2 separate regions of the Homo sapiens genome follow, and region 2 is linked to region 1. Evidence: fine-mapped expression QTL. A gene starts in region 1. The other region holds a variant in brackets. All regions are shown on one strand. Distances are from middle to middle.

Region 1 (2,908 bases):
CCGAGGCCCCTCCCCACGTGCCCAGCCCTGAGCAGCAGCAGCGCTGAGTGACCCAGGTGTGGGAAATGCCTGCTGAGGGGTTTTAGGCCGCAACAGCCGAAGCTGACACGGCCGACTCCAGGAGCCTGTGAGTTCTGCATTTTACCAACCGCATGCACGTCTTTCCAGGAGTGCTTGCCCTATGGCTGCCCCCCAAATTATGGGGTTACCTTTGCCCCCTATTCAGTGTCTATATCCTCACCCCAAGCCCGTGAGGTGACCTGGGCACTCGGTGACAAAGTCCTGTGCTTGTGGGGTCCCTGGTGCCTTCCCTTTGGGGTCACGTCAGCCCGGCGTTCCCCCGGAGGCACAAGTCTGGGTGGCAGCTGAGAGGCGTCAGGGGCACATCCAGACCTGACAAAGGAGGCGGCCCCAGCCCTGCAGCAGAGGGCCCAGGAGCCCAGGGGCTCAGCTCCAATGTCCAGGTCTGAGCACCAGGGTGCAGCGGGATCAGGCTCCTGGAGCAGAGTCTGCCTGCCACTTCCGCCTCCTTCCAAGACAGGGACTGGGGCGCTGCAGGCCCTGTGGGGCCCACAGAGAGAGAGCTCAGGGACAGCTGGCTGAGGCCACCCTCTGTGAGACTCCTCCTCTCCAGCTCCAGCCCACTCCACCTTGGCTTGCTGCCCAAGCTTCCAAACACCCAAGGATGGGGGAGGCTGCACCTGACTGCTGACTCGGTGGACCAGGGTGGGCCCCAGGGTGGGCATTTTCAATAAGGTGGGGCTGCCTGGCTGGACGCAGGGAGTCTGCCCAGCACCTGCCCCACTCCCAGCCTCCGGCTTCAGTGCCCACCTGGCTCCCGGGGAGCTGAGCCCCTGAACTCCCTGCCAGGCCAGAGTGACAGCCCGGGTGACCGACCAGGGGACAGAGTGCTGGGAATTCACGTCCCTGAACACACTGCACCCTCCCACTCTGCGGTCAAAAGCCCTGCTGCTCCTTCAAGCCAGGAGCATGGATTAAGTACCTACTGTGTGCCTGGCCAGCCACACGGACGGGGAGCTGACAGCCGGGCCCTGAAGCCGCCCTCTCTCCTGTGGGAGTTCTGGGGGTGGCCGGGGAAGGTGAGATTCTCCTCCACCCTCCCTGCCTCTTGGCCGAGCTTGGGGCTATCCTGGCTCTTCTGACCGCGGCACTACCGTGGGCCGGGGTCACCCTGGCGCTGAAGAAAGCCCCGGGGGGCCTTTGGGGCAGGAAGAGGTCAAGAGCCCCAGGACCCCCCAGGGTCCCCCAGGACCGGGGAGGGTCGGGTGCCCAGTGGGTCTCTCCGATGCCTCCAGGTGGGGATGAGGCAGCGTTATTGCCCCACCCCCAACATCCCCGGGCCTCCGAAAGACCCTCGCTCAGGAGAGACCCCGGCCCAGCGACCGCCCCGCCCCCCACCCCGGGCCCCGCCCCCCACCCCGGGCCCCGCCCGGCCCTGCCCAACGCCGCTGCAGAGGCCACCCCGGGACTGCGGCAGCCCCGCCCGGCAGCAGCGGGGGTGGGACGGGGGCGGCGGGAGCCGGCGAGGGGGTCTGCCCGTCCGAGCTTTCCTGGGCGCCGGCTCCGCCCCTCGACCCTTGGGGCCCAGGTGGGGCGCAGACCCCGTGGCTCCCCGCGGAGGCCACACGCCTGGCTCCGCCCCCGGTGCCTCCCCCAGGAAGGAGCGACGTTCCCTAGGCGCCGGGTCCGGACAGCGCCGCGCAGCCCCCGCGCACCCCGCGCCCCCCGCGCCCCCCGGGCCCGCCCCGTATCCCTGACCGCGTCCCCTGGAGACACTGCGGCAGCGGCGGGCGGGCGGGGGCGGGCGAGGGCCGGGCGCGTCTCCATGGAGCCAGGGCGCGCGTAGCCGAGCCCAGCCCAGCCCAGCCGGAGGCCCCGGGGGCGGTGCGCGGCGCGGCCGCAGGATGCAGGCCATGGACCCGGCCGCGGCGGATCTTTACGAGGAGGACGGCAAAGACCTGGACTTCTACGACTTCGAGCCGCTGCCCACCCTCCCCGAGGACGAGGTGAGCCCCCGGCCCCACTGGGGGGCCCCTTCCGCCGCCGAGGGGTCCGCGGAGAGCGCCCGGGGGGAGGACCCGGGAGGGGCTGTGAGCTCCCGCCTCCCCAGGCGCCCTCCATGGCCGAGGGGTTCCCACCGCCGTTCTCAGCCCCCGCGTTAGGATTTTCACCCGGAGGGGACAGCACCCCCGAATGCGCACGGGACGGCGGCGGGTGGGCAGCCCCTGCAGAAGTTGGTGCGCGGTAGCTCCTGGTGGAAACCCTGGCGGGACAGTGTGGGGGCAGCAAGGAGGACGGAGGGGGGTCTGCTTACTCCCTGCCGGGCCCCAGGAGGCCAGCGGGGTGCAGAGCAGCAGAGTCCAATCAGGCGCCGCTCAGGAGCTGGGGGATGAGGTCCCCGGAGCTGAGGTTCAGGAGCGGGGGGTGGGGGGAGCGCTGGATGACTGCCCCCCGAGACTGAGAGCTGCTTCCTGCTCTCTGGTTTTCCGGGCCTTCACCCAAGACCCCCCTACCCCGCAAGGTGCAGAGGGGCTCTGCCTGCCATCTGCATACCCTGGCGCTTCTGCTCATGGACCGCCCACCCTACAGCACCGGCTGCCCAGACGCCACCTTGGCTGGGTCTGACCCTGTAGCTCAGCTCTGGCTTGGCTGGGATGGAGTGGACAAGCCAGGCCCGGAAGCATGAGAGGTGGCCCCCAGGGGATACAGCAGCTCCCAGAGGGACCCTCACCCTCCAGGGATCCGAGATCTGCCAAACCTCCAACAGGCAAGAGCCCAGACGCTGGGCGCCTGCGTCTCCGGGTGACAGCGTCGTCACCTGCAGCCATTAGTGGGATGTTGTGGCGCCCTCTCTTTAAAGCCGGCCAAGTAAGCCTGGAGCAGGGAA
Region 2 (2,908 bases), 33 kb after region 1:
CACACCAGCAAGTGGAAACACATCCCATGCTCACAGATGGGCAGGATCAGTGTTGGTAAAACAGCTACACTGCCCAAAGCAATCCGCAGAGTCAATGCTATTGTTATCAAACTACCAATGTCATTTTTCACAGAATTAGAGGAAACTATTCTAAAATTCATATGGAACCAAAAAAGAGCTGAAATAGCCAAAGCAATTTTAAGTGAAAAGAACAAAGCCAGAGGCATCACGTTACCCAACTTCAAACTATACTACAAGGCCACAGTAACCCAAACAGCATGGCACTGGTACAAAAACACATAGACCAATGGAAGAGAATAGAGAGCCCAGAAATAAGGCTGCACGCCTACAATCATCTGATCTTTGACAGAGCTGACAAAATCAAGCAATGGGGAAGGACTCATGATACCAAGAATCAGGAAGATGTCAAACTGAATGAAAACAGGCAACCAATGATACCAACCTGGAGATGACAGAAATTTTAAAAGTGACTTTAAAATTTTTAAAGCAACCATCATAAAAATGCGTCATTGGGCAATTGCAAACACGCTTGAAACAAATGAAAAAGTTTCAGCAAAGAAATACAAAGTTTCAACCAAGGAATAGAAAAGAAAAAGAAAAAGCTAATGGAAATTTTAGAGCTGATTTTTTAAAAAAACTCAATGAATGGGCTTAATAGCAGAATAGAGAGGGCAGAGGAAAGAATTGGTGAAATGGAGACAATAGAAATTACACAGTTTGGACAACAAAGAGAAAATAGACCAAAAGAACTGAACAGAGCCTGAGAAGCTTGTGGGACTATAATAAAAGATCTAATATCCATGTCATCAAAATCCTGGAAAGAGAAGAGAAGGAGGGTGGTGCATAAAAAGTACTCAAAGAAATAATGGCTGAAAACTTCCAAATTTTGGCAAGACACATAAGCCTACAGATTTCAGAAGGTGAGAAAACCCCAAACATGATCAATGCAAAGAAATCCACACCAGGACACATCATAGTCAAACCTCTGAATACTAACCCTCCCCTCTCCGAAAAAATAAAAATAAAAATAAAAAACAAAAAGAGAGAGAAACAGCAGCTTACATATATACACATATGGGGGGGGAAAACAGTTCAGATGATCAGATTTCTCATCAGTAACTGTAGAGGAAGTGCATAGCATTTTTTTAAGTTCTGAAAGAACTTTCAACCCAGAAACCTATTTCCAGCAAAAATATCCTTCAGAAATTAAGGAAACAGGCTAGGTGCAGTGGCTCAGGCCTGTAATCCCAACACTTTGGGAGGCTGAGGCAGGTGGATCACCTGAGGTCAGGAGTTTGAGACCAGCCTGGCCAAGATGAC[G/A]AAACCCTGTATCTACTAAAAATACAAAAATTTGCCAGGCATGGTGGTGGGTGCCTGTAATCCCAGCTACTTGGGAGGCTGAGGCAGAAGAATCACTGGAATCTGGGAGGTGGAGGCTGCAGTGAGCCCAGATACAGCCATTGCACTCCAGCCAGGGCGACAAGAGCGAGACCCTGTCTCTTAAATAAATAAAGGAGGAAGAAGGAAGAAAGAAGGAAGGAAGAAGAACAAGAAGAAGGAAAAAGGAGAAGGAAGGAGGAAGAGAAGAAGAAAGGAAGAAGATTGACAGAGTAATGTTTAGAAACATGACCTAACCATGTACTGTCTACCAGAAACTCACTTCAAATAAAACAATATAAGTAGGTTGAAAGTTAAAAGAGTTGAAAAAGATACATTATGAAAATGATAAAAAGAAAGCAGAAGTGACTGCATTAATATCAGGTTAAGTGTACTTCAGAGCAAAGAAAATTACCAGAGATAAAGAGGGACATTCTATAACAATAAAGGGTCAGTCCGCCCAGAAGACATAGCAATCCTAAACATATATGCACCAAATAACAGAGCTGCAGAATATGTGAAGCAAAACTGATAGAATTAATAGAGACACAGATGAATCCACAATTATAGTTGGAGATGCCAGTTTCCCCTCTCTGAACACTTGATAGAACAATCAGACTGTAAACCAGTAAAAATATGAAGGAACTCAACAACACTGTCAATCAACACGGCTGGATCAACATTTAAAGGACACTCCACCCAACAACAGCAGAATCCACATTCTTCTCAGTTGCCCCACTGACTATACACCAAGCTAGACCAAATCCTGAGCCATAACGCAAACCTCAACAAATTTAAAAGAATTTAAGTCATACAAATGTGTTCTCTGACCACAGTAACAAAAATAAAAGGGAAATTTTCCAAACACTTGGAAACGAAACAACACATTCTAAATACTCTATGTGTCAAAGAGAAAATTTCAAGGAAATTTTAAAAACATATAGAACTGAGTGAAAATGAAAATGCAACATATGGCGAACCAGGATTTTTGTGCCAATGGCGATGTGCTGGCTGAGATACTGGACTATATCAGTATCAGTATTTTGCAAGCTGCTACTGTTGTGGAAACTGGGTACAAAGTACATGAGCTCTATTATTTATTAAAACTATGTACAATTATCACAAAATAAAAGGTTAATTTTTTAAAAGTGTAACAAGTGCTCAAAATGGGTGATTTCCTACTTATCTGACTCTAGTTGGCTGTTCTATGCTCGTGGGGCTGTCTGCGTCTGCTGTGCCTGGATGGGGGAGACTCTGTAAAGGGGAGCTGCCTCTTCCCAGCTCCACACTCAAGGGCACTGCATTGGTAGCCAGAAGTCAGCCACGTGGGAGTACTTACACCAGGGAAAGCAGCAAACGCTACAAATGTCTTGTTCTGTTGACTCTCTGGACTTACTGAAGTGATGGAGAACACGTGGATGATGTGATTAAACTTAAAAGTGTGTCATGTCTGTGGCCGCTCCCTTGAGAATAGCCCAAAAGGTGGAGGACATGGTCTTACGATATCAAC

The links. PIP is the estimated chance that this variant, and not a neighbour inherited with it, causes the effect.
Region 2: its variant is fine-mapped to the expression of KNDC1 in whole blood (TOPMed, PIP 0.98).

What each region holds. Positions count from the first base shown.
Region 1 is chr10:133,158,543-133,161,450 of GRCh38, forward strand. It overlaps KNDC1 (kinase non-catalytic C-lobe domain containing 1), which reads left to right and starts at 1,677. Exons shown (of 30, transcript NM_152643.8): 1 at 1,677-2,027. The coding sequence starts at 1,926. RefSeq lists enhancers at 2,048-2,637, 2,638-2,908.
Region 2 is chr10:133,192,005-133,194,912 of GRCh38, forward strand. The region is part of intron 9 of KNDC1 (kinase non-catalytic C-lobe domain containing 1); the gene reads left to right. LOC105378574 (a long non-coding RNA gene) reads right to left here. Exons shown (of 2, transcript XR_946511.3): 2 at 2,483-2,908. Among named protein-coding and RNA genes, the nearest start is that of KNDC1, 33 kb to the left of the region's middle. The variant G/A (reference allele first, on the strand shown) is at 1,342.